Regions from separate parts of the Homo sapiens genome. Here all the other regions are reported to be linked to region 1. Evidence: microRNA targets listed by miRTarBase, many of them from high-throughput screens and not tested one by one. Region 1 holds a microRNA gene; each other region holds the end of a gene's coding sequence.
What was found. The annotated mature microRNA hsa-miR-1277-5p reads AAAUAUAUAUAUAUAUGUACGUAU and lies in region 1 at 5,022-5,045, opposite strand. An mRNA with a match to its seed (bases 2 to 7 or 8) in the 3' UTR can be bound and repressed. Matches are read on the target gene's strand: a 7mer-m8 pairs with bases 2 to 8, a 7mer-A1 pairs with bases 2 to 7 and ends in A, and an 8mer does both.

Region 1 (7,119 bases):
GCTCAGTAATATTCATCCCTGATTTCTTAGCATGTTCTATATGTTAGTTTTTCTCAAACTTCAAATTGTTAACCTTAGAAATTACCTTGCTTTCACCAAAACTAACCAGAGTCCAACCAATTTGTCAATTAGGTGGTTACTGAGCACTGAGAACCTCAATGATAACAGTGATAACAGAAGTCATATTACAATGGATTTGAGATTGAATAAGAGGTGAAGATACAGAGACATTAGCACGGTCTGAGTTTTCAAAAAGCTTAGCTATAAATGCAAAAAGACTTCGATAAAGTGACCCAGCACTTTTATAACCTGAAGGGAAGGAACTACTGGAAAAGAAGATAACAGAGCAATGTTCTGGAAAAGAAAGGAAAGAAGGCCTACTGTGTATTAGACCTAGTATACACATTCTCATTTAATTGTCATACAGGCCTTTGGGTTAGGTAGCTGGATTACCTCCCTCCTAGAAAAGCAGGACTCTGAGGTAAAGGCTTTAAGAATTTTGCCAGTCCCACAATTAGTAAGCTACAAAGCCAAAACTGAAATCCAGGTCTTACTTAAAAATCCAGTGATCTTTGTATTATACCACACTACTTTGGACAGAAAACAAGAATACTAAATCTTCAGTGATGGATGACATGAAAAAAAGGTAAGAAATAACAATAAATATGTAGGTAAAGGAAGTGAAAGATGATACAAAGGAATGGATTCAGGCTTTTTAGCCTCTAATATTTACGTGGAGTAGGAAACAAGGTTATCGGCTGAAAGTGAGGGGGATGTGAGTGGGTACAGTGAGCATGAGGTGAGTATAAAGGTTTGAAATAATCACTACACATAATGGAAATGTCTGTGCCACAAGAGGGGTCAAAATGAGGTTGAAAATGCATCTTCCCCAATCCCTTATCTGATAATAATCTCTCCCTCCTCTGCACTTCTATTATTATTCTTACTGTTCAGTATAGTATGAACTATAATACAAATACAGAGCTGTATATAGGCTAGCTCTATTTATTTTCTCTACACCAGATAATTAGTACCTGGAGAGAAAGGTCCATGTTTTTTGCCTCTTGATATGCCTCATGACACCTTCTTATGGTGCCTAGCCCTGTCATTTTTTTCTGGATTTTAGGAAATAGTGAAAACGGAAAGACTAAGAGAACAATGAGAACCAAGACACACATAGAGATGATTATGCTAAAGCATTGTTTGCTGCAAAAAGCTCACTGTGACCGGACACGGTGACTTATGCTTGTAATCCCAGCACTTTGGGAGGCTGAGGTGGGCGGATCAACTGAGGTCAGGAGTTCAAAACCAGCCTGGCCAACATGGTGAAACCCCATCTCTACTAAAAATACAAAATAAATAAATAAATAAATAAATATAAAAAATTAGCCTGGCGTGGTGGTGTGTTGGTGTAAACCCAGCTACTTGGGAGGCTGAGGCAGAAGAATTGCTTCAACCCAGGAGGTGGAGGTTGCAGTGAGCTGAGATCACACCACTGCACTCTAGCCTGGGCAACAGAGCGAGACTCAAGTCTCAAAAAATAAATAAATAAATAAATAAAAAGCAGACAGTTTAGTATGACATAAGGCATTCCTATAATCCAGCCCTAACTTTGCTCTCTAGGCTCATCCTCAAATGTTCTGCACATTCCCCACCTCCATGCCTTCAGTAATGCCTTTCCTCTCCCATCTTAGCCTGGCCAAATCCTTTTTTTTTTTTTTTTTTTTGAGAGGGAGTCTAGCTCTGTCACCAGGCTGGAGTGCAGTGGCGCAATTTCAGCTCACTGCAACCTCTGCCTCCAGGTTCAAGCGATTCTCCTGCCTTGGCCTCCCAAGTAGCTGGGACTACAGGGACACGCCACCACGCCCAGCTAATTTTTGTATTTTTAGTAGAGATGGGGTTTCTCCATGTTGGTCAGGCTGGTCTCGAACTCCCGACCTCAGGTGATCCGCCTGCCTCGGCCTCCCAAAGTGCTGGGATTATAGGCGTGAGCCACCGTGCCCGGCCTAGCCTGTCCAAATCTTATGCATTCATTAAGAACCAGCTCAGATGCTACCTCCTCCATGAAGTCATCTTCATTCCTACCCCCAAGCAAGAAGTCTCCTTCCCTTTGTGTTCTTACAATAGCTTCTAAGTTTATTTGAATACTTACTGCATTTAGTTTTGTGTTTATCCAATTTCTTCTACTAAAATGTAAGTTACTCGAGAGCAGAGTATGCCCTCGTCCAGGGTATATCCCCATAGCCTTTATCATTAGTGATTCATACTTAATTCAACTGAAAAGGCTAGAACTTAAAAAGTGATTATTTAGAATCTTAAACCTCATTCTGCTCCACAGTGTTTTCTCACTACTGTTTAAACTTCTAAACTCTCCTTAAAATCATCTTTTTTCCCCACTAACTATAGATAGTTATACATTTGTTATTTATCCTAAGAAAAACATTCTTTAAAAAATAAGAAAAGCTATAGTGGAAAAAACAGGAATATTTTAAGTTTCAACAATAAAAATGGCTAGATAACATTGTAATCCATTTACTTGATGGAATCTGATGCATCTGAGTACAGAACTCATATAGAAGTATGAGGAAAATCTAAAAATGGTAAGAGTAAAAGACAGAATATAAAATTCTACCTACACTACAATTAGGCAGAAAAATGTATGCTAATGGATGAGGACCAGAAGGAAATGCTGAAAAATCAAGACACCTGTGTGTTATAGTATAGAATTATAGGCAATTTCTTATTTTTTTAAAAAAATGGTTCAATTCCTGTTATGTACACTGCTATGCAATCCACCATTCGTCCCAAAAGGGAACATTTTTCCTTTAAAGGAAAAAGTATGATCAATATCAAAATATGTGGTCTCGCTGGGCACAGTGTTGCACACCTATAATCCCAGCACTTCGGGAGGCTGAGGTGGGTGGATTGCCTGAGCTCAGAATTTCAAGACCAGCCTGGGAAACATGGCAAAACCTTGTCTCTATAAAATATACAAAAATTATCCAGGCATGGTGGCATACACCTGTAGTCCCAGCTACTCAGGAGGGTGAGGTGGGAGGATCACTTGAGTCCAGGAGGTGGAGGCTACAGTGAGCCATGATTGTGCCACTGCACTCTAGCTTGGGCGACAGAGTGAGACCCTGCCTCAAATAAAAAAAAAATGTAGTCCATTAAATTTCTAAATTCCATAAGGATAGAACAGTGGTTTTCCATTAGGGGTTATTTTGTTCCATACCCCTTCCCAGACATCTGGAGATATATTTGGTTGTCATAATTGGGAGTTGAGGATGCTATTGGCATTTAGTAAGTAGAAGCTGGGGATACTGCTAAAACATCTTACAATGCACACAACAGGCCTTCCCCTACCCTCTATTAGCCCAAAATGTCGAGTGCCAGTACTGGAGAAACTCTGGGGTGGAGAATGTGTCATTTTGTTAGCCTCTGGAAACCCACTGGCTAGAACATTGCCTAGGGCACAGAAAACACTTAAAACTTGTATAAATGAATAAAAACACACCATCCTGTCTTTCTCCTTGAGTTTTATCCTGATACTGTAAACTGCCCATTTTCAAAATACTGATCTTGTGCTCAGTCTCTTCTAGTAAACCAACCTTTGAAGCTTCATAGCATCAATTTTTTAAAAGGTATCAGGTACTATCAGAGTAAGGACTTCTTATAACTTCTGATTCCTAAAGACATCAGAATGTTGCTGCACTGAGCTTTTCAATACCCATAACTCCTGGTAGTAACCTCAAGAAGAGTTAGGGCTTATTCTGATAAAAATACAAGAACAAAAAATAAAAGCATTTTACAAAATATTGTCTCAAGGATAAATTACCAATTAGAATATGAAAAGGACTTCTAAAAAGACTGAAATGTCTTCAACCACAAATGTGACAGATTCATGAAACATTTGCTGAACATCAGCCATGTACAGAGCGCTATACTAAAAGAATATAAAAGCTGTTTGAAATATACCATATAAATATGATGTCTGCTATAAACTAATATTGACATTGTATCTTTCCAACCTTTTTAGACACATCTTGTTTCAATTCTTGTACAGGGGACTCATTTCCAACTTTGTATGCAGTGTTCTCTGTTTCCTGTTTGAAAAAGAAAAGAAATAGAGACCAAATGATGACATCTTTTCTTTAAAAATATGCTTTAAAGGGGTACAAATGAGAAAATGTAGCATTAATAAATCAAAGGCCCTTAAAGGGCTTTGATTTCTTCTTCTTCTTTTTTTTTTTTTTTTTTTTTTGAGACAGAGTTTTACTCTGTCACCCAGGCTGGAGTGCAGTGGCACAATCCTGGCTCACTGCAACCTCTGCTTCCCGGGTTCAAGTGATTCTCCTGCCTCAGCCTCCCGAGTAGCTGGGATTATAGGCGCGTGCCACCACACCTGGCTAATTTTTGTAATTTTAGTACAGACAGAGTTTCACCTTGTTGGCCAGGCTGGTCTTGAACTCCTGACCTCAAGTGATCTACCCACCTCAGCCTCCCAAAGTGCTGGGATTATAGGTGTGAGCCACTGTGCCCAGCCTAAAGGGCTTAGATTTCTGAATACTGATAGATGCTCAGAAATTTTATGCCAAATGGGACAATGTAATTTGCATAAGAAAGTTACCCATCAGCAATATTCTATTATTCTGCAATAGGATATTTACCTTTAAATGTGAAAACTTGCTCAACTTTTTAACATTAAAAAACTGTAATGGACGATAAGAACTTCTACGTACTTTTATAGCTAAAAAGGATTAAGGATTTAAGCAAGGGGCTGAATAAAAATTGTTATTTTCCCCAAAGCATTGCTCCATAAATATGCACAAATACAAAAGTTTATAACACAGAAAACCACATTCAGGGAATAGTTTTCTTAAAATTCTACATGCTTTAGATAAAAGAAATCAAGACTTAACCAGAAGTTAAATGAAGCCCCTAAAAAAACTATGAAAAAAGATGAAAAAAATTAAACCCACCAAAAATACATATATATCTACGTATACATTTATATACACATACGTACATATATATATATATTTGGGAGGTTAGAAATGGATACTGCATTTCTGCTGGAAAAAATTAGGGTAAAATAAGACAATCATATATTTGCAAATCTCAATACAATACTCTTCTCAATCTTAAGTTGTCTATTTATAGAAGCACAGCAATTTGAATGCTACTCTTGATACTGAGGAAAAAAAACCATAATTCTTTGTGCACATCACAGAGTTTGTTAGAGGAAGGTCATTATAACCATTTTAGACAGATAAAGGACTCAAGGCACATTAATTATTTAGGTGGCACTTATACAAGTATCAGGATATGATCACAATAGGCTCAATAATGAAATTACTCCAGAGATTATTAAAATGTTAAAGATTTAACGTGCCAGTGAAATTTCTGTAGGACTTGCAATATCTTCGAGCACTGAATTCCTCCCCCAGAATTTGGAGAATACTACCAATCTTACACAGATTCTTCTAGAAAAAAAAAAATGTTTCATGGACTCTTAAGTATTAGATAAAATCCAAACAGTACCAAGGCCCATGAAGGCCTAAACATGACATAGCCTCTGCCTACATTTTTGATATCTTCTACACTCCTCATCTCCCTCTCATATCACTCCCCCACAATTACATTCTGGCCAATAGGATGATTCCTTGCCATTAGGGTCATAGCTCAAGTGCTATTTTATCAGAAAATACTTCCCTGACCATCTCAAAATAGCCTTAGCTGACTCCTTAACTTTCTATCACATTATCCTATTTTTCTTTTTTTTTTTAACTTTAAGTTCAGGGGTACATGTGCAGATTTGTTACACAGGTAAACTTGTGTCATGGGGTTTTGTTGCACAGATTATTTCATCACCCAGGTATTAAGCCTAGTACACATTAGTCATTTTTCCTGATCCTCTCCCTCCTCCCACCCTTCACCCTCTGATAGGCCTCAACATGTGTTGTTCCCCTCTATGGGTTCATGTGTCCACATCATTTAGCTCCCACCTATAAGTGAGAACATGCAGTATTTGGTTTTCTGTTCCTGCATTGATTTGCTAAGGATAATGGCCTCCAGCTCCATCCATGGCCCTGCAAAGGACATGATCTCGTTCTTTTTTATGGCTGCATAGTATTCCATGGTGTATATGTACTACATTTTCTTTATCCAGTCTATCATTGATGGGCATTTAGGTTGATTTCATGTCTTTGCTATTGTGAATAGTGCTGCAATGAACATGTGTGTGCATGTGTCTTTATAATAGAATGATTTATATTCCTTTGGGTATATACCCAGTAATGGGATTGAGGAGAGGATGTCAAACTATCCCTGTTTGCAGACAACATGATCTTATATCTAGATAACCCATAGTCTCAGCCCAAAAGATTCTTAAGCTGATAAACAACTTCAACAAAGTCTCAGGATACAAAATAAATGTGCAAAAATCACTAGCATTATTATACACTAATAACAGCCAAGCAGAGAGCCAAATCAGGAATAAACTCCCATCATTTGCAATTGCCACGAAAAGAAAATACCTATGAATACAGCTAACTAGGGAGGTGAAAGGAGAACTACAAACCACTGCTCAAAGAAACCAGAGATGACACAAACAAATGGAAAAACATTCCAAGCTCATGGATAGGAAGAATCAATATCGTTAAAATGGCCACACTGCCCAAGGCAATGTATAGACTTAATGCCATTACTATTAAACTACCACTGAGATTCTTCACAGAACTAGGAAATTTTATTTTAAAATTCATAGGGAACCAAAAAAGAGCCTGAATAGCCAAGGCAAATCCTAAGCAAAAAGAACAAAGCTGGAGGCATCATGCTACCCGACTTCAAACTATGCTACAGTGCTACAGTTACCAAACAGCATGGTACTGGTACAAAAAGAGACACACAGACCAATAGAACAGAATAGAGAATACAGAAATAAGACCGCACACCTACAACTATCTGATCTTCGACAAACCTGATGAAAACAAAGAATGGGGAAAGGCTTCCCTACTCAATAAATGGTGCTGGGAAAACATTATCCTATTTTCCTTCATTGCACTTATCGTTCGAAATGACCTTATTTACTTGCTTATTTTTTGTCTCTTCCCTGTC
Region 2 (7,119 bases), not on the chromosome of region 1:
GACTGTCCCCAAAGCAGTACCGGGGGTGGGGAGAGGAGACACGAAGCCTGGTGCCTCCTCCCAACCTCCTACCTGTGTAGGCCTCCAGCACTTGTGTTTCCTTCTTCCTTAGAGTCGGTCTCCTGGGAAATGGTGCTTACAGAGATGGAAGAGTTTAATACATCTCTTGCTTCCTCTCTCTTTTCCGAGGCCCTCAGAGGGAGCTGCAGAAGCAGTGGCTGGCGGGGGCTCTGAGGCGCCTGGGTGAGGGAGGAGGGGGGTGGCGTGGAGCCTCAGCCAATTTGGAAAGCACTGTGACCCAAGCACATCTTGCAGCAGCAATGTCAAATTCTGCCGTTCAGGCATGCCATTAGTGTGCACGCTGCCACACAGGAATCGGTGACACAAAGGCACATCCTTCCCCACCCTCCTGGAGCTTAGAAACTAACGGCTCTAATGAGAAATGAGGGCAGAGAGGAGAGAGATGGGGGCGGGCCCCCTCCTTGTGGGCTGGCGCTGGTGTCAGAGGAGGCTGACCCACTTCTTGTGGTGGTGAGGGGCCTTGGCGGCCAGCCCACTGAAATGCCACTTAAACCAGCCGCTGCTCCCTGCACGAGGGTCTCCTTTGTCCAAACCCCTCACTCGGCGCTCTTGGAGAGAGCCCTGTCCCCCTGGTAGTACAGCTACTCTCTCTGCCTCGCTTCCTTTTCTCCCCCAGGGTCCCTTCACCTCATGGGCTCTTCAGGGCCCAGACTCCCCTGCCTTCAGCAGCCCTCTCTGGAGAGACCGGCAGGACCGCGCGAGGGAGGGTGCTCAGGTGGCCATGCGACGCGCCGAGCCTCTCTTCTTTTCCCGGCTTTTTGATTGTGCCGTGAGTTATTTAGCCAACAATAGATGTTTATGTATTTTTTTAGAGCTCATATTTATTAACAGCCTGGGAAGGAGGAGACCGGGAGATTTATACGGAAAGCACGGTGAGTTAAAAGGGACAATTAGAGGAGCAGAAAGATACCGAGCATAGAATTCTAAAGGATATTTTAACGCACAATCAAAGGTTCTTGAGATATTTTCCAAGTAGACAGAAGGTAAAAGAAAATTGGCCCATTACGAGCTGATAGTGGGGGATTGGTGATGGGGATGGAGTCGCGGCTGATGGCTGAACTCCTGCTTAGAGGAAAGTGAAGTTAGAGGGCAAGGCGGGGAGCTGAACCGGGTCAGGAGGCTTCAGAACGGGGGCTGGAAGGGACTCCATCAAAGCATGCACCCACCCCTCCTCAAAGAATGAACACCAGCCAGGTGCGCTGGCCCAGCCTGTAATCCCAGCACTTTGGGAGGCCGAGGTGGGCGGATCTCTTGAGGTCAGGAGTTCGAGACCAGCCTGGCCAACATGGTGAAACCCTATCTCTACTAAAAAGTTAAAAAATTAGCTGGGCGTGGTGGCTCGCACCTACAATCCCAGCACTTTGGGAGGCTGAGGCAAGTGGATCCCATGAGGTCAGGAGTTCGAGACTAGCCTGGCCAATGTAGAGAAAACCCATCTCTATTAAAAATACAAAAATTAGCCGTGCACGGTGGCTTGCTCCTGTAATCCCAGGTTCTTGGGAGGCTGAGACAGGAGAATCGCTTGAACCCGGGAGGTGGAGGTTGCAGTGAGCCAAGATCGCGCCACTGCACTCCATCCTGGGCGACAGAGCAAGACTCTGTCTCAAAAAATAAATAAATAAATAAATAATAAAACAATTAGCCTGGTATGGTGGTGTGTCCCTGTAGTCCCAGCTAATCAGGAGGCTGAGGCAGGAGGATTGTTTGAGCCTCAGGAGGCTACAAATAAACGCAGAGAAAGACTGCCTCCCTAGGTCAGCATAGAGTAGGACAAATAAACGCAGAGAAAGACTGCCTCCCTAGGTCAGCATAGAGTAGGGCCCGGAGGAGCTGGGTCCCTGGCAGAGAGGTGGGTCGGCTCATGGGCTGGTGGGGCCTGCCTGGGAAGCGGGCGTGCATGTCCAGGGGAATTTGCTGAGGGCTCGGTGGCTCCAGGGAGCCTCCGCAGCAAACTCCTTCCCTCTGACCCCAGTCCCTGCAGCTTGCCCTCCACGAGGCCTCCCGGGCTCTCCCGCTCCCCCCAACCTGCTCACAGGCCTTCCTGGAGCCCATTCACCGTGGCGGCAGAGCGCTGGTGATTAGCTGGGTGATGAGTAAACATTTGCTAAATGGGATTCTTGGCTTTTGCAAAGAACAGCCCCGGCAGGAGAGGAGGGGTGCGGTTGGTGGGAGGGGCTCTGGGGCTGGCTGATGGTCACAGCCCGCACAGGCAGAAGCGCCGGGGTGATCTGAGCTGCTCCGAAGTCAGGAGGGGCTGAGGGCGGCCGCGGCTGGGAAGCAGGGAGCGCAGGCCGTGGAATGCTTCCCAAGCTTGGAAGCAGCAGGTGTCTGGGAATGGGCCTGTGGCCCAGGCAGACTTCCAGCGAGCGCTCCAGCTTGCTGGCACCAGGGGAGGATCTGGCTGAGCCCAGGAGGCAAGTTTCCACCATGAAACCCACTGTTGAAGAACCGCGGCAAGGTTGCCACGGTCAGAAACCACGTGCCTATGGACAGGCTGGGGGGGGTGGGCGGGAGGACGACCAGGTCGGGGGGACCGCACAGCCCCTCCACTTCCACGGCAGAGTGGAGTCCCTGAGCAGAGTCCCCTGGGCCGCTCCCATACAGGGCGCGTCTCCCATGCCCTCAGCTGGGAGTGGTTTGTGGATACCCCAGACACAGTGCTGTTACCACCTCTAGCCCTACTCCCCACACTCTTCTCTGGGTGGCTCCTCATCCTCCAAGACTCATTGGAGTGTCACCTCTGCCTGGAAGCCCTCTCTGACTGCCCCCACCCAGCTGAGCTCCTCATTTTGGGGGCCGAGGGGTGCTACCACAAGCGCCAACTCCATACCAGTTGCGAATACTTGTTTCTACATCTAGGCTCTGAGCTCCTTTTGCCCCGAGCCACGTCTTCTCACGTTTATGTCCCCAGAGCCTGGCCAGTGGCTGGACACGGAGGTCCCTGATCAGCCCTTGTTGAATGAACTATGCAGAGCCAGCCAAGCTCTGGGGTCAGGGGAGGAGCTTGTGTGAAAGGCCTTAGAGACCACCAGTGGCCATCCAGCCCCTCCGACAGGGGTGGCTCTGTCCCCATCAGTCCACAGTGGAGGCCTTCAGTGGCCACCCAGCCCCTCCAACAGGGGTGGCTCTGTCCCCGTCAGTCCACAGTGGAGACCACCAGTGGCCACCCAGCCCCTCCAACAGGGGTGGCTCTGTCCCCATCAGTCCACAGTGGAGGCCTGTGTGGCAGGAGGGCTGGGAGGGAGAAGAGATGACTCCCTCTGGGGGTCCAGGGAAAGTGGGAAGATGGCAGCGGAGGGGTGGCCCCCGCCTCTGGGAAGACCACAGGAATCTGCATCTCCATGCCCTGAACCAGACGCAAGGGGCTGGAGCTGGCGAATAGAGAAGCTTTTGCCTCGCCCCTGACGCGTCCAGTTGCTTTGATGTTTGGGGCGATGGTGTCATCATAACTGCGTAGCATGAGCTGCTGAGTGACAACTGATGTCGTCTGCAACAGAGCTGCCTTGATTCCCCCTACCTCTTAGAGGAGAAAGCTGCTAAAAATACCTGGCGTCCTGGGCCCCCACTGCCTTGCCTCTAATAACAGTCGGCAACCAGAGACTGTGCTGTGCTTGACAGAAGCGGATCATTTATAAAACATTAGCATTTCTCGTACTGACATTTCACTTCCATATTACAGGACTTCCTAAGTCTTTTTTTAAAAAAAAAATTAATAAAGTGCTTAGACTCTTGATTTTCCCACTGAGGGCCTTGCTGTCTGAAGCTGGAAATGAAATCAACAACACAACAACATCCTTGGGTTCTAAGGGACAGCCAGGCCCTAGCACCTCGGCCTGGGTCAGAGCCTGCAGGCCACAGGGGAGCAGGTGCAGGCTGAGGATTCTTTGGTCTGCAGTCACTGGGCTCCCTTTAGTGAATGCCCCAAGCCTCATACTGAGGAGGATTTGTCCAGCCAGGCCTGAAAACACAGCCTTCCTCCCTCTATCCGGGGAACCCTCTCCTTTCTCTGAAGCCAGAGAGACGTGTGCAGTCTCCAAGCCCACCCACAGCTGTCCGGGTGGGTCCCTAGCCTCCTGGAAAACTCCTTGGGCCCCAGGTACTGACTGTTTCCTTGCAGCCGCCCGTCCCCACCAGCCGCCTGCCGGGCGCCCTGAGGATCAGTCACTTAGCCATTGCTCCGGAGACTCCCGGGAATAGGCCAGGAAGGACCCAGGACCAGCCTCCTCCGGGGAGAGCCACGGAGATGGTGCCGACCCGGGGCAGTCAGAATGTGGAAAGTGAATCATGATCTGTGCGGGCAAGGGAAGTGCCACGAAACGGAGCACCAGGGTGTGCGTGCTCTCATGTGTCCCGTGAATCAGTGCGCCCCTGCCCCCTGCGGCTCCTCCCGCCAACAAATGTGCTGTGTTCCCAGAGCTGTGCCCGGCCAGGCTCGCCCACCCACAGAAGCCCAGGATCTGCCACCTGTCGGGAATGCGGGGTTAGGAAATGAAAAACAGGGTTCTTGTCCAAGATCATTTATTGTTATTATTATTTTTCTCTCTTAATTGGATTCAGCGTTTCTGGCTCCTCACACACATCCTCTCTGGTGGGGGATTCAGGTTTGTGCAAAGCACAAAGGAGCTTGTACCCACCTGGGCCCCCGGCCAGCAGCACGGCCGGCTTTGATCGGAGCCCCTCTTCCCTGTCCGGGCTCGCCTGCCCCAGTCCCTGCTTCTGACCCCTGAGTCCGGCCTCCCGAGCCTCTGCCTGCACCCTGAGCATCCCCAGGACGGCTGGGAGGGCCAGGTCTTCCGTGATGCAGAAGTGCCTGAGATGGTTCATGAAATGCCCTCATTGTTCCCCTTCTGCTAAGGCCCCCGACGCCTCCCTCCTGCTGTCCCACACAGGGCCCTTGCTGGGTCACACACCAAACAGCCTCAAGGAAAAATTCAGCAGCTGAGCCGTGCGGGAGGCCTGGGCTCAAGCCCGGAGTCTCCTTGGCCCGTCCAGGCCGTCACTGACCAAACGCTAGGCTGACGACACGGTCCGACCCTTTGGACTAACACTGTGGATGCTGCCTGGCCTGCTGGTTTCCAGATCCCAAAGCCCCTTCCTTCCCCTTCTCCATCTCGCTCACCCTCGGGGCCTGGCTCCCTCATATACAATAAGCTGCTTCTCACTTCTCACCCTGAAGCCAACAGCTACGACAGCAGGGGTGACAGGGCGCTCCAGGGTGGCAGACAGGCTTGTGTTGCATATAAAAACAAGGTGATGCTCTAAATATCTAAGAATATTGGTCCCCCAAAGTGACTCTTGCTGCCTCCCCCTTCCTCACCGTCCCGCCGACACCTTGCCCCAGGCCCTTGGCAAGGCCAGGTCCCTTGGAGACTATCGTTGCCAGTTTGGGATTCTAGACAAAAATTCTATCACTTTGTTTTTGCTAGAAATCACCAATACAATCCTTAGTTCAGCAAATACAGTTTTCTGTATAGTTTATAAACATGAAAAGACGTACAGTTAGGTAACGGAGTGGGAGGGGGACTGTGCATTTGTGTATATATATATATATATATATATATATATATATATATATATATGTAGAGTGTGAATATATATAAGTGGACGTAGTTAGTTATAAAACTGCACCTTCTGTGAGAACCTCATTGCCCGGGATGAAGTTCTAGATTTCAGCCTCTGATGATCTTTCCTTTGGTAATTGGTTCTTGGACCCCAGCAGTTGGACCTGGGTCTGCCAGGGTTGCCTGAGACATCAGGAATGAGAGGCGCTACCCCCGAGGGAGGGGCTGAAGGTGGAGTAGGATAGAATTCAGGGCAGGGTGACTGGCCTCAGGCAAGAGCCAAGATGCCACCTGCTCGTGTGTGCCCAGACTGCTGGCCACCCAGCCTCGTGGGTGAGCCTCATTTGTTCTTCTCTGCGTCCTGCTTTCTCCAGGAACCACGGGGCCCTCCAGACCTCTCGGAACGATCGGGATTCCACAGAGCCCCGGTGCCGCCGTCGGGGGCAATTGTCCCACTGTTGCCAGTGGAGGATGCACTTGGAGTGCCTTTTCCCACCTTGCCAGAGTGGACACTGTCCGTGGGCGCTCTGCGGGGCTGGCTGGGACAGCCGGCTGAGAAGCGCCACCCCCTCCCGCCTAGGGCTGTACACTTTGGGTTTATAATCCACATGGCAGGGTCCAGACGTCCAGACAGCAGCCGAAGGCTCTACCAGCCTTTTCCTGAAACCCAGCAGATCTTCCACTTGTTAAAAAAAGAAGAAAATAAATTCTGTTCCTTGGTGGACATGTGGCAGTGCTGGGTGCTGACGCCCTGGGTCCTCAGCGGAGAGTGACCGCCAGCCCCAGTGTCCAGGCCAGGAGGGAGGCCCCCAGGGAACTGGCCGAGGAGGCCTGCTGCACCCCGCTGGGGGCACGGATGGGGGTCCTGCGGGCACACTTGCCCTTCCTCTTGGGCCGGGCCGTAGGCATGATGTCAAAACTGAACTTGTGCTGGTAGTCTGGGGCATAGTCTGGCAGCTCGGGGGCCTGTTTCCCGGCGCCCGCCTTAGAGATCTGATTGCGGTTCCTGGGGTTGGTGCAGTTCTTCCCCGGCTTCCTGTGGCCGGGCCGGGGGCCGTGCGGGTGGCCCTTGCTCCTGGTGGGGCCGTGGGGTGAGTGGTGTTCCTTGCGGGCGGCCCTGTCGGTGGTGGTGAGCGTGTGTGACTTGATCTGGTGCGGGGACGCTGGTCCCGTGCAGTTCCGGAAGTCCTCGGCCCTCAGCAGCTTCAGGTCCTGGCCGTGCCGCAGCCCAGGGGACACACAGGGGACAGCGGAGCTGGAGCCCCGGAACCTCTGCAGCCATTCCCACAGGGAGCGCGCGCGACAACCACAGTCCCAGGGGTTGCCGTTGAGGCGGAGGAACTCCAGGGCCCCCAGCGGGGCCAGGCACTCACCCTGCAGCTCCGAGAGGCTGTTGTTGAAGAGGAAGAGGGTGGTCAGCCTGCGGAGGTCGTGGAACGCCTTGTGGTGGACCCACTGCAGCTGGTTCTCGTGCAGC
Region 3 (7,119 bases), not on the chromosome of region 1:
CTCTTTGAATCACAAATAGACAATATGAATTACATAAAATGTTAAAATTTGAACCAAATTCACTTTGAGAGTGAACAACTCAACCTAGAAAAATTGTATAATCAGCTATCAAAAGCTACATACATGCAGGGTTGTAGGATTCTCATAGTAATCACATCTGAGCTATATTTGTCGAGTTTATAACAGATATACTTTGCATACATAATCACAAATCTTACCAACAGCTCTCCAGAGTAGGTAAAGCATTTTTTACTGTTCCTGTTAAGGAGACAGAAGTTAAGGATGTGAACTCCCCAAGGTCACTCAGAAGGTAAGAAGATGGGCTAGGATTACGGAAAGGGAACATGGGAATGTGCTGTAAAAGTTTTCTTTCTAAACAACTTACAGAGTTATCAAAGTAAACTTTCCATTTCTGCTGTAAAGTTTCAAATTATAAGAGTAGAACTGCCTAGGATTTAAAGTACTGTGTGAGGAAGTCAGCCGGAACACAGCATCAGGAGTGTGACTCAAGCAACAACCTCCTCTCCTTTTCAGGGTATGGTGGCTGTGTCTGGCAGTTTGTCAGTGCTTCTGGATTCCATTATCTGTGCCCTTGGCCCCTTGGCATGTCTCACCACACAACTACCTGAATTGAATGGCTGTCCCAAACAGGTCTTGGTGAGTTTTCCCTGGATTTTTAGAGTCAGATCCATTGGGCGTCAGAGATGCCCTGCCTTAATGAGCACTGTCAGACACACATAAGGCTTTGTGACACACAGTGCTTCCTTCATCTGTTGGCCCATGGAACATGATGCTATATTATCAAATGCATGCTGTACTTTCACTGAAACTAGAAAACAAGCCATTTACCAAAACAGTACTTAAGAAAGCAGCATTCTAGCCCTTGAGGTACTACAATTCCTGTGTTTCCTGTTTGCTATTCTGCACCCAAAGACAGTACAGGAATTGTTTCCCTCTTTTTTACGAGGATTAATGGGAGAAGTCAGCAGAAAAGTTCCTAGCATAACAAACAGCAGGATGCCGTCTTCATTCTCACCTGTTTTTCTAACTCCATTTGATTTTTCTTATCTCTCTCCTTGAACAAAGAAACATCTCTCAGGAAACCAAGGTACAGTACTCTTCAGTTGAACATTTTTCTTTGTTTTGCAGTCAAACACATTAGACAACATTGCTTACATCATGCCGGGACTGTGACAGCAAAGAATCCTGGGACAGAAACCTTATCCTACACCATTGCTGGTTTGTGTATATATGACTGTTGCAGATTCCTTCAGTGGCCTCTGGCTGTAGGTTTTAAATTTTTATATCTATACATACATATATACATATATATATAATGTACAATATATACATAGACTGTAACTACTTTGCTTTTAATAATTTTATGAAATGGCAAAGGTTTAGCCAAGAGGAAATTTTGGCATGAATACAGGCTTGGGATTCTTTTTTCTCCTGTGGTGGATAAATCTGCCTTAAAAATCAATGTAACTTGGGGGCTGGGGGCTTGTTCTGGGTGCCAAGCGCATCTCTTTATGGACAGCTAAAATGTGATTATTTTCCAAGCTCAGTTGGACCTCCAGACCCATCACTGACCATTTGCCTTACCTGTCTTAGTCTGAAATGTAATAGGAAAGATAACGGGAAGATGCCAGTTGACTGAAAATTCAAAGCCTTTCAATTTGAAGTGACCTAGGTGGGAGGTGATAAAATTTGTTCCCTTTATAGTTATGGAAGTGGCTTAGGTGAATTGAGTAGAGGGTTCATTCCAATTCCTACTGTATAGGTGTCTGTGTCTCAAAATTTATTGTAATCATTGGTACCATTGGTGGCCTCAACAGAGGCCAAGGAGTTCTGTGAGCCCTGGCAGCAAAAAACACCTTGGGGGGTGAAGCTGTCAATGCCACCAGTTGGACCTCCATACATTCTGAGCTAACCCAGAATCTTTAGTCGGCAGAATTAAGTGCTGGTGTCTTTCACTGGCAGCATGAAGTTAGCCACCAAGTCCTCACAAGCCGTGCTGCTTAGTTGCTCGGTGGTTATGGATAAACTTTGCCCAGCATGATTTTTGGGTTCATCTTATCAGTTCCCCTGGTGGGCAGATACACAGTGTTCTGCATTCCACATGTAAGTGAATTGCAAAAACAAAACAAAACTCACTCTCTTGTAGGTTTATTTATGTGTGTGTGAATGTGTATTTTAATTATGTGTATTTAACTCTTTAAAATCTCTTAGATTTTAATTTATCCTGTAAATTTCTGTATATATAATTTAATAACAGAAGCCTCCACCAGCAACAGCATGTGGAAGATACAGATTTGTCATTTCTCCCTTCCGCCCTCCCTTCTTTCCTTCCTTCCTTCCCTGTTTCCTTCCCTCTTTCCTTCCTTCCTCCTGGTCTGTTCCAAAAACTCTGAATCATCTACATTTTAAGGTATTTTACCTCAAAAATGAATCATTGTGTTAGGATTCTAATTCTTTATAAAGAACTTCATGGGCTTCAATAATGTCTAGAAAGTAAAATAAAGAGGAATGTTACCATCCCCAGCTGCCCTTATTTCCAGAGAACCAGACGTTTGTTTCCCAGTTGGAAAGAAGACAGTTGAGCACTTCAGGATGGTTTTTAAATTTGGTATGAGATTCTCTGCCAACACCAAGCTCTGAGTTAACTGTGCTTTCTTCTCCTGGCCCTGACAGAGCACTACAGCATCAAAGTAAATCTTTGGGGACAGTGTAGCCCATCTGCATCCTATTTAATTTCTTCCCTTCTCCCCACCAGTGTTGTCACAGGGCTATGTTGCTTAAAGGTAGTCTGGCTGCTGAATCCCTTTCTCAGCTCAGAGCAGTTTTAAGATTTAATTGGGAATACAGAGAAACAGGATTGTTTGAGAACCAAAATCAAGAGGAACAGAAATCTTAACTTGATTTCATGTGTTAGAACATTGTACCATGCCTCTTCTGTATCTGTGGAAGTTTCCTGTTTGACACAGGGTATCTAGGAGGGGCGGGGAAGACATGGATAGTATAGGAAGACATTAATCCTAGCATTGTCATTTATATACATTAATGAAATCCTGATGAGGACCTGCTTTTTGTTTGTTTTCCTTTGAAACCCAGCCCTATTGTATTTGTATTTAAAATTTGTACACATTTGTATAATAATCTGTACCTTGTGGTATTTGGTACTATTAGAGGAAAAACTTTGGATTCAGACCTTCTTGCAGTTTTTATATCATTGTTTTATTTTGTTTTTTAAATAAATTCTAGTGGTTTGATCCAAATCCCATTACAGTTGTATAAAGAAATAAAATTTTGTACTTATATTATTAAAAATCACATTTTTAATATTTGTAGTCCAGTCTCAGCTGTCTTTTCCCTAATCATGATCATCATAGTTGCTATGAAATTATAAAACCTGTTTTTCACTCTATTCTACCATAATTTTCTTAAGAAAAAAATCAACCCACAATGGAGATTAAATTTCTAATCTTAGCCATTTTCTTAATATACTCCTTACTCTGCTTCTATTAACTTTTACATTGTAGAGGTTCTCATTTTCTCTTTTGCAAATTGCAAATTTAGTGAATCTGATAATTCCACCTCCATTTATTGGCAAATGAAACTATGTGCATTATGGTGTTGGCCTAAATCAAGAAAATGTTGATTAATCTTATATAAGGGTTGCATCTGAATCATGTGCTAAATGATATGTTTCAGTACTGTCCTGTTAGCATTACAGTAATGCTGTTGATAAGTTACTTAATCTTTATAGGCTTCCAAAGTCCCATCTATAGAATAGTGTTAAAGTCACTTCCCTGTCTGTAGACCTGCAGCCAGCCAGCCTGACATGAATGTTTAATAACATTATGAACACTGAATATATGGAGATATGACCTTTCAAGGTAAAAACTTCAGTGCAAACACAAGGTGTTAAAAGTCATAAATAGTAAAATAATATGATTAATTACAAGGCTAATGTCTTATGGAAAGGCAGCAAGGAAGAGACTACCGTATCACTGAGTGACTATTAGAGTGATTTGCATACTTTGTCTCACTCATCCTCCGCCCAAAGCCTTAAGAATATTATCTCCCTTTATAGATGCGAAAAAGTACTTTTCCTAAGTTTATACTGCTAGTAAATGGCAAAGGCAGATTAAGAACAGTGAAACAGCTGACCCCAAACCCTAGGCTCTTTTCTACCCCAAGCTACTTTCAGATTTAAATCATGTCTATAATTCATCAGAATGCTTTCCATTATCTCAAGTCCTGAGCGAATGTGATTGTGGGAATGCTGTCTCAGATCTTTGCATTGTTCGGGTATCTAGCTGGCTTTCACTCTTGTCATACTATTGTCTTTAAATTTTGAAGGCAAGGTATCTTGATTTTTGTCTGTAAGCACTTAAAGGATTTAATAGATTACATTTATGCAGACTGTCAATCTTAAGAAATTTGAACATTTTAACCCTCAGTAAGGCATGATATTAATTTTACTAAAACACTTAAAAAGTAAATTGAAACACTTTTTACTAAATCAGTTTGCTCCTTATTAGCACACTTTTTAAAGACAGTTTTAATCAGTTTTGTACTAACTTTAATGTTTGCCATTTACATCCCTATCTACTATGTTGATAAAATCCATATACTGGCCAGGTGCAGTGGCTCGTGTCTGTAATCCCAGCACTTTGGGAGACTAAGTCAGGAGGATCATTTGTGGCCAGGTGTTTGAGACCAGCCTGGAGAATATAGCAAAACCCCATCTCTACAAAAACTAAAAGATATTAGCCAGGTATGGTGGCATGCATCTGCAGTCCCACCTACTCAAGAGGCTGAAGTGGGAAGACACTTGAGCCCAGGAGATCAGGGCTACGGTGAGCTACAGTTGTACCACTGTACGCCAGCCTGGGTGACAGAGACTCTGTCTTTAAAAATAAATAAATAAATAAATCCATATACTTCCATTTCTGTTTCAATAGCTATATAGTAATCAGTTTGCATGGAGTTGTTTTTCTTTTTTTTTTTGAGACGGAGTCTCGCTCTGTCTCCCAGGCTGGAGTGCAGTGGTGCAATCTCTGCTCACTGCAAGCTCCGCCTACCAGGTTCACGCCATTCTCCTGCCTCAGCCTCCCGAGTAGCTGGGACTACAGGCGCCCACCACGGCGCCCACCACCACGCCCAGCTAATTTTTTCTATTTTTTTAGTAGAGATGGGGTTTCACCGTGTTAGCCAGGATGGTCTTGATCTCCTGACTTCGTGATCTGCCTGCCTGGGTCTCCCAAAGTGCTGTGATTACAGGTGTGAGCCACCGTGCCCAGCCTGCATGGAGTTTATGATTCCACTTCCTGTTTGGGGGCATATGAGTTGTCTCTGTTTTTGTTTTTTTTTGTTTTTTTTTTTTTTTTTTTTTACCATGAATAAAGTTTACAAGAACTTGTTAAAAGCTTAAAGGAAGGGCCAGAGATGGTGGCTCATGCCTGTAACCCAGGGCTTTGGGAGGCTGAGGTGGGAGGATCACTTGAGCTCAGAAGTTCAAGGACCAGCCTGGGCAACATAGTGAGACTTTGCCTCTAAAAATAAATAAATAAAGGTTAATGGAAGAATCCAAAAGAAGTTCATGCTAAACATAACTCCATATGACCAAGCAATAAGGTTAAGTGAAGAAAGACATGGAAAGTGCCTTGACCTGAAGGTCATCTTAAATGGCCTTCTCCCCGCTTATACTCCAAATACCATTACTGAAACGTAGATCTATTTAAGCTTTCATGTGCTAGTTACTGGGTTAGACAATAGTGGGGAGCAAAACAGAAATAGTAGCCCAGCCCCCAGGGACATCCAGACTCGTGGGGGCAAAGGCATTTGTGAACAGGTCTCATGAGTGTTGTGGAAACACTTCAAAGCAGTTTTTATATTGTACAGTAAAGACATCGGACCCCATGGCTGCTCAAACAAGTGAATCTACAGAGGTGATTAAGTTCTAATTTAGGTTTGTTTTTTTTTTTAAGACACAGCCTTACTCTGTCACCCAGGCTGGAGTGCAGTGGCACGATCTCAGCTCACTGCAATCTCTGCCCCCCTGGGTCCAAGCAATTCTCATGCCTCAGCCTCCCAAGTAGCTGGGACTACAGGCGTGTACCACCACACCTGGCTAATTTTTGTATTTTTAGTAGAGACGGCATTTTACCATGTTGGCTAGGCTTGTTTTGAATGCCTGACCTCAGGTGATCCACCTGCCTCAGCCTCCCAAAATGTTGGGATTACAGGCGTGAGCCACCACACCTTGCTTAATTTAGGTTTTCTGTCATCCAAAATTTGTGCAGTCAATTTACTAGCCTTTCAGATTTAAAAACCACAAACATCACAATAAGTACTTAAGCACCCACAGTAGCCAGACTACTAAGGCCATGGTTATTGTATTTTTGGAGTACATGCCAGAAGAAAAGGTCATAACCCATAGATAGGTATCTAGTGTGTAGGTGTCAGCAGACACACCACACACAGCCAGGAAGGCTGAAGAGATTAGAATCACAACGCTGGGAAAGGCCTTTGAGATTCTTAGCTTGGGGTCCACGGTTGTACTTCAGGGACCCCAGAAACTCCCTGAGGTTATAAGCAAAATTGTATCGCTGCCTTTTTTCTTCAGAAAGGCTCATGGCTTTTGTCAAATTCTCAAAGGAGACTGTGACCTAAATAAAATATTTTTTAAAAATGGTTACGAGTCCTTGATCTAATTCCAGTATCTAGAGAAAATGGGAGCTATGTTTGGCTCACACAGTAAATTTATGGCAGAGACGGGTATTAAAGCCCCACTCGTGACTACATCTGTGCTTTTTGCCATCCTGGGCGCTAGAGGGAATTGCGCTGCAATTCATTAAATTGCCTCTCAGTCTCAACAGATGACAAACCCCTTGCCCTTGCCTCTGATTTAAGGTAAGATAATTTGGGCTGCGAGCAGGGTGCATCTTGGAGCGGGGAGACCTTGACATCAAACAGGAAGAGTCTTACCGGGACAAGGAGACAACAGCCCAGAGAGGCTGTCACCCAGGGTAGGTGTGCAGTCACAGTGAGGTCCCAAGGACTAAGGGCTATGACCCTAAGAGTCTCGGCTTCTGTGTAACTCACCCAAGT
Region 4 (7,119 bases), not on the chromosome of region 1:
GCCCCCTGGTCCAGAGGCCACCTCCTGGGCTCCTAGCCTGAGGCTTCCCCACTCAGGGGGACAAGCCCAGGTGGAAGACCCTCTGACGAGGACCCAGGCATGCTGGGCTCTAGCTGTCTGTCTATCCCTGACCCCTGGTGTGGCTTTGGGAGCTCTCTTGCCACTCCAAGGTCCCTCTGTAGGTGGGTGAATTGGATTAGTTGGTGTGGTCCTGAGACCCAGCAGGGTCCATCTCCTGGCTGGGGACAGCAGTCATCTCTGCTGACCTCACCCTCAGCTTTGGGAACTATCCCTCCCATTTCCCCGTGGGGGGCCCACCTGGAAAGTGGCGTTGAGCCACTGTGTGGTGCGTGTGGCTGTTTCCCAAGAGCCTTGGGCAGGGGATAGAAAGCCAGTGTCCTCCCCATGGCTTCCTTCTCCTCTCAGGCTGATGTGGCCTGGGGATGATGATTCTGAACTCAATACTAGGGAGCTCTCTGGCCCCCAGGCCTTGATCAGCATCTCTCTCAGTGAGACAGCATCTGTAAACAAACATTTGGGTCCCCCTGGGGGAGCCACTGTGGCTTATCCAAGTTTTCTTAACACTGAGTCCCACTGGATCAAATCACAGACCTGTATGTCTCAGGGCTGGAAAGACCCCTAGGGGCAGCTGACTCAACCTTCATATTAAAGATGGGGAAACTAGGGCAGTGGGTGTACCGCTTGTCCAAGTTCACCCAAGATCAACAGCGGAGCTAATAACAGATTTCACTTTATGCATGGGAGGGAGCTTAGCTAGCTGAGGAGCCTGAGGCTCTGGAAGGGGCACCACCTTGCCCGTAGTTCATGGGGAGGCAGACAGCCCAGGGCCCCCGATCCTCAGCCAGGCTTGCACTTCAAGGCCCTGCCACCACCACCAGCACCCCCCATAGACCTATATTGCTGGTCTTGGAGGTAGCCCGCCCCTCCCATGATCCTCTGTCTCTTCCCAGGTCTGGAACCACCGAGTGCTGAAGGATGAATTTCTGGGCCAGGTGCACCTAAAGGCTGACCCGGACAACCTCCAGGCCCTGCATACCCTCCACCTCCGGGACCGAAATAGCCGGCAGCCCAGCAACCTGCCAGGCACTGTGGCCGTGCACATTCTCAGCAGCACCTCCCTCATGGCTGTCTGACACCTGCCCACCTACCTGGCTCTGACCGTTCCCACCACCATCTGCATGTCCCCACTGGGCCTGAGTCTAGCCTGGGAGCCAGGATACTGGGGTCCTTTTCCCACTCTTCCACTGACTTGCTGTGTGACCTTAGGAAGTCTCTGCCCCTCTCTCAGCCTCAGTGTCCCGAGGGCCCCGAAGCATTCCATTCTCGTGGAGGAGTTTCCTTGCTGAGATTTCAAATAGTCCTCCCCACCTCAACTGTCACCACTGCTAAGGGACTCTATCCATTGAGCACATTTTCCTAAGGCCCTGCTGTCTGCCGAGGAGCGCCAAGAAGATGTCACTTGTTTACACACGAACTGCCACATCCCCAAGCTCCGTTCTTGCCCCTCGTGTCCTAGGCCCAACCCAGCCTCCCAGACCTCACTTTCCCCATCAGCAATACCTGGTGTTCTCCCACCTTGAAAGGACTCTTGGCTCCTGCCGGGTTCCTGCTCAGGCTGGAATTGGGAAAATATGCAGGTGACATTTGTTCATTCTCTAATCCCATCCTCTCACCCATCCATTTCCTCACTCAGTGGAGATTTGCCAAATGAATAAACGACACCTTTGAGGCCCCAGGTGAAGCGGGGCCCTACTCCGGCCTCTGCCTTGGGCCTCGCCTCTGTCCTCAGGTCCTCTCAGAGGCAGATACCTAGGGGAGCTGCTGCTGCCTGCTCATTCTAGCTTCCGATTCCATTCCCAGCCCCTGCGTTAAGGTCCCTGGAGAGGTGGCGTCAGTGGGGGTGAGGAAGGGCATCTTCCTGACTCCTCTGCCCAGTGCTGGAAGGAGCATGCCTGGGTTAGTGGGCCAGGGGCCAGGCAGCTGGGGGCCTTTGGGGACCAGAAGGGGAGATGTGCTCCCAGAGCCTCTCTGCTGTAAGACCCCAGCTTTTCCTGGAAGATGGGACTCTGGGGTGTGTGGTGCTCACCAGAGTCAGGCCACCCACTGGGCTCGGCAGGAGATAGGGAGCCCCATCACCTGACCACAGCCCCCCACCAACATTCCCCCAAAATGCAGCCTAGGAGGCCGCAGTGCTCTTCTTCCTGCCCAGACCAAAATGTTCCTTTTAGTCCTCAATGTTTTATATTCTTTTTGTTTTGAAAATCTCAATTTTAATCAGGGGTTTTAAAAGAAAATTGAAAGCCTGAACCTCCATTTTTCTTCTTGGCTCCAGTTTTGCTGGTCCTCTGGAGAACTCTTCGTGAGCACTGGTGCCGTGACCCACTTGGGATCTCTGCTGTGCCCTTCTCGGGCTTCCAGACCAGGTGTAGCAAATGAAAAAGTGCAGTTAATTCAAGAACAGGAATCCCTGTGTCCTTGCTGGGATTTCCTTTTGGGAACCTGACTTTCCGACTCCAGATCCTGCTGTCTGGATCAGTGTTCTGGCTGGAGGTGCTGGATTCTCTGATTTTGCCTCCTCACTCTGTGTCTGGCTTTGCTCCTGGGTCTTGGCCCTGGGCCATATGAGGGGCCAGGAAATGAACGACAAGGAGGATAAGAGTGTTCTTTCTTGAAAGCCGGGACTTCCCCTCAAGAACCTGGGCCTGGGGCCGGGACTCTGCATGACTGGGAGCAAGTCACTTAAACCTCCTGTGCCTCGATTTCCCCCTTCTACAAAGTGGGGCCAATGATTCTTGTGTGTCAGCACTGTTACTACCGAGTGCTGAGTAAGGGCAAAATAATACCCCTTTCTCTATGTATCTCTGTATGCACACGCACTATATATATATATATATATATATATACATTCATGTAATCACCACTTCTCGATGTCTATTTCAAATCAAGGCTCCTGAGTAGGGGGTGAAGTGAGCCAGCTTGCACCTCAGGCTAACACATAGGACTTTGCTCAGCCATGTCCCCTGGGATACAGGGGCACACCAGGACCAAGTGGCAGACCTGTGGGCTTCAGCCTCGGGGCCGGGGCATGCCTGCCACCCCCTGACAAAAACAGGTTCCACAGTGCTACCCTTGCTTCCTGCCCCTTGAGGTGGGCCAGGCTGGCTCCTGGCTATGCAGGGATCTCTGGTCCCCAGGAGACCTTGGGGGCCAGGCAGGTAAGGATCAGGGGTGATAGGGGAGAGCAATTACTTTGTTCACTGTATGCACCCGCGGGGGCCTGGGAGTCCCCATTTGCAGGTGGGTAGGGCCTCCAGCCCACACCACCCAGACCTAGGCTTCCCTCTTCTCAGGATCCACCACAGGGTTAGGGGACAGGAAGCCTGTTCTATTCTCAATAAATCTTACAAAATTCCAAAAAGACTTTCCTGTGTCCCTCTGTCCCCCTGGGGGGAAGGGACAATGGAGGAATATTCCCCAGGCCTGGGCGACTGTCCGCTGGTCAGAGGGAAGGCCCCGCTGCCTGCCCGGTGCACCTGTGAGCTGAGATTGTGGGGATCATTCAGTCATTCCTTTATTCAGTAGATCTGTACGGGGCTGGCTTTGTGCCAAGGCCTGCCCCGGGCACCTGGGATGTGGGGAACCAGGCATAGCAATCCCTGCTCTGGGACAGTCTACAAACGAGCAGCGAGAACAAAGACATACTCTGGTCATGACAGACACTACCCCGCACATTACTGATGGGGCAGTGTGGGCCTGCTGGGTTAGAGACGGCCTACTCCCTGATCTGTGCATGAAGGGCTGGGAAGAGGAGATGGGCCTTCGGGGCACAGGAAGGTGTGGGGGGACCAGAGCGGAGGCTGCTGAGGGCAGATGCAGGCATCTAGGGCCAGGAAGCTGGTGTGGTGGTGGGGAGAAGCAGGGTTGGGATGACTGAAAGCAGAGTGGACGACTCAATGAAAAACGACTTGGGAGACGGGGTGAGTGCAGTGTGAGGGCAAAGTGAACCGAGATGCCTCGCTTTCTTCATGGGACTGAGAAATGGGTATTGCAAATCGTGTGATCTGCTTAGCATAGTGCCTGGTTCATAGCATGGCTGAACACAATGTAGCTGTCATCCTGGTGTTTGGAGGCCGCCCTGTCCCCCATAACCTGCCCACCTCTCTGCCCCATTCCCACAGCTCACTGCATTTTGTCCCTGCTGCCAGTCGTGTGCCATGGGCTCTCCTGTGCTCCCCCGGGGTCTCATTTCCCCATCCGTGTAGGGCTGACGCCACTGGCCCCGCCCAGCCTGGGAGGATGGAGAGGGGGGACTTGAGGAGTGGCCAGTACTGGGTTTCGGCAGCAGGTGCAAATCCCAGGTGGGGACTGTGTTCCAGGGACTCCTGGACTCCTGTTAGGCCAGCAGGCTAAGGGGCAGACGGCATCCTGGGGTCTTCCTGGGACAGGGTCGTCGGGTCTGAGGGGACCCAGGCCCTAGCAGAAGCTGACTCCTGTCACGGTCACTTCCCAGCGGTGCTCAGCCCGCCTGACGGAAGCAGCTGGGCAGTGGGGCCTGTGACCAGCAGGCGGCGCTGGCGAGCTATAGCGCCCCTTTGGGCCCCCACCCCACCTTCTGGGCAGCTTCCCTGCAGACACCCCAGTTATGGGGGCTAGGGACCCAAAAGAGACATCCTTCTGCCACCCAGAGCTGCCCTGGCGAGGTGCACTATGGGGCCGCCGACAGCTGCGTGGCTGCCGAGGGCGGAAAGGAGAAACTGTCATGTCCCGATAGGGCCGCGCGAGGTCTCCATCCTCGACAACGCTAATAACAAAGACGTGTGCTCCTCTTTGCTTGGTTCCCCCCACTCCTTTAAATCACAGATTTCACTTCAGTTTATCTGTGTCGCTGTCACACGTGGGGTGGCTCCCAGTCAGCTGGTTTGGCAAAGTTTCTGGATGATTACGGAATAACATGTGTCCCCAACCCGCAGAGCAGGTTGTGGGGGCAATGTTGCATTGACCAGCGTCAGAGAACACACATCAGAGGCAAGGGTGGGTGTGCAGGAGGGAGAAGGCGCAGAAGGCAGGGCTTTAGCTCAGCACTCTCCCTCCTGCCATGCTCTGCCTGACCGTTCCCTCTCTGAGTCCCAAACAGCCAGGTAGAGGAGGAAGAAATGGGGCTGAGACCCCAGCACATCAGTGATTAAGTCAGGATCAGGTGCGGTTTCCTGCTCAGGTGCTGAGACAGCAGGCGGTGTCCTGCAAACAACAGGAGGCACCTGAAGCTAGCCTGGGGGGCCCACGCCCAGGTGCGGTGCATTCAGCAGCACAGCCAGAGACAGACCCCAATGACCCCGCCTCCCTGTCGGCAGCCAGTGCTCTGCACAGAGCCCTGAGCAGCCTCTGGACATTAGTCCCAGCCCCAGCACGGCCCGTCCCCCACGCTGATGTCACCGCACCCAGACCTTGGAGGCCCCCTCCGGCTCCGCCTCCTGGGAGAAGGCTCTGGAGTGAGGAGGGGAGGGCAGCAGTGCTGGCTGGACAGCTGCTCTGGGCAGGAGAGAGAGGGAGAGACAAGAGACACACACAGAGAGACGGCGAGGAAGGGAAAGACCCAGAGGGACGCCTAGAACGAGACTTGGAGCCAGACAGAGGAAGAGGGGACGTGTGTTTGCAGACTGGCTGGGCCCGTGACCCAGCTTCCTGAGTCCTCCGTGCAGGTGGCAGCTGTACCAGGCTGGCAGGTCACTGAGAGTGGGCAGCTGGGCCCCAGGTAAGGATGGGCTGCCCACTGTCCTGGGCATTGGGAGGGGTTTGGATGTGGAGGAGTCATGGACTTGAGCTACCTCTAGAGCCTCTGCCCCACAGCCACTTGCTCCTGGGACTGGGCTTCCTGCCACCCTTGAGGGCTCAGCCACCACAGCCACTGAATGAAACTGTCCCGAGCCTGGGAAGATGGATGTGTGTCCCCTGGAGGAGGGAAGAGCCAAGGAGCATGTTGTCCATCGAATCTTCTCTGAGCTGGGGCTGGGGTTAGTGGCATCCTGGGGCCAGGGGAATAGACATGCTGTGGTGGCAGAGAGAAGAGTCCGTTCTCTCTGTCTCCTTTGCTTTCTCTCTGACACTCTTTATCTCCGTTTTTGGATAAGTCACTTCCTTCCTCTATGCCCCAAATATCCCATCTGTGAAATGGGAGTATGAAGCCCCAACAGCCAGGGTTGTAGTGGGGAAGAGGTAAAATCAGGTATAGACATAGAAATACAAATACAGTCTATGCCCCCTGTTGTCAGTTGGAAAAGAAATTAACTTGAAGGTGGTCTAGTTCTCATTTTTAGAAATGAAATGTCTGTCTGGTCATTTTAAAATGTGGCCCTTAAATTTCACGCCCTCACCACTCTCCCCCATCCCTTGGAGCCCCATGTCTCTAGTGAAAGCACTGGCTCTGCCCCCAGCCCTCATGGCTCATGCTGGCATAGGGCGCCTGCTCCACAGCCTGGGCACCATCTTCAGACAAGTGCCCGGTGGCAACTGCCTGCTGGCCCTGTTGAATCCACATCTCCACCAGGCATCCAGACTAGTTCAGGTCTCTGGAAGGACTGTGGGTTTGCTGTGTCCCAGAGCTCCAGGGCAGGGGTCAGGGCTCGGATGTCGGGCAGTGTCATGGGCAGAGGATCGAATGCCCCGGCGGCTCTGAATGGGCCCTTGTGAAAAATTGATGCGCATTCTAGGAGACAGGTTGGGAGCCAGAGGGGCCTCATACCAGGGTCTGTAGGCTGGGGCTGCCTTTTAAGCTCCTTCCTGAGGCCGTCTCTGGGTCTGGCCCTGTGCTGGACAAGGCTGGAGACAAGGCAATGTCTCAGACCCTCTCCCATTGGCCACATCCTGCCCTGGATCAACTCGCCAACTTTGGGGGCAGAGGTGGGACTGACCCTTACCCTGACAACATAATGCATATAGTCAAAATGGGATAAAGGGGAATATAGAGGCTCTTGGCAGCTTGGGAGTGGTCAGGGAAGGCTTCCTGGAGGAGGTATCATCTGAACTGAGCCATGAACCATAAGTGGAAATTCACTAGTCAAAATTTCAGGTAGAAGGGCCAGTGTGTGAAGGCCAGGAGAT

Region 2: miRTarBase lists RTN4RL1 as a target of hsa-miR-1277-5p. Seed matches in the 3' UTR shown: 7mer-m8 at 5,671-5,677.
Region 3: miRTarBase lists HMGXB4 as a target of hsa-miR-1277-5p. Seed matches in the 3' UTR shown: 7mer-A1 at 3,317-3,323.
Region 4: miRTarBase lists CAPN5 as a target of hsa-miR-1277-5p. The part of its 3' UTR that is shown has no 7-base or 8-base seed match.

Annotation. Positions count from the first base shown.
Region 1 is chrX:118,384,327-118,391,445 of GRCh38, reverse strand. It overlaps MIR1277 (microRNA 1277), which reads right to left and starts at 5,052; the gene lies at 4,975-5,052. It overlaps WDR44 (WD repeat domain 44), which reads right to left. Exons shown (of 20, transcript NM_019045.5): 3 at 4,032-4,106.
Region 2 is chr17:1,930,095-1,937,213 of GRCh38, forward strand. It overlaps RTN4RL1 (reticulon 4 receptor like 1), which reads right to left. Exons shown (of 2, transcript NM_178568.4): 2 at 4,583-7,119. The coding sequence ends at 6,402. Among named protein-coding and RNA genes, the nearest start is that of RTN4RL1-AS1, 84 kb to the right of the region's middle. RefSeq lists enhancers at 1,558-2,123, 2,124-2,688.
Region 3 is chr22:35,292,458-35,299,576 of GRCh38, forward strand. It overlaps HMGXB4 (HMG-box containing 4), which reads left to right. Exons shown (of 11, transcript NM_001003681.3): 10 at 535-657; 11 at 1,150-3,350. The coding sequence ends at 1,194. It also overlaps a transcript of TOM1 not described here. Among named protein-coding and RNA genes, the nearest start is that of TOM1, 3.9 kb to the right of the region's middle. RefSeq lists an enhancer at 7,012-7,119.
Region 4 is chr11:77,122,717-77,129,835 of GRCh38, forward strand. It overlaps CAPN5 (calpain 5), which reads left to right. Exons shown (of 13, transcript NM_004055.5): 13 at 972-3,439. The coding sequence ends at 1,154. MYO7A (myosin VIIA) reads left to right here and starts at 5,530. Exons shown (of 49, transcript NM_000260.4): 1 at 5,530-5,773. RefSeq lists enhancers at 4,216-4,938, 4,939-5,662, 6,385-7,108.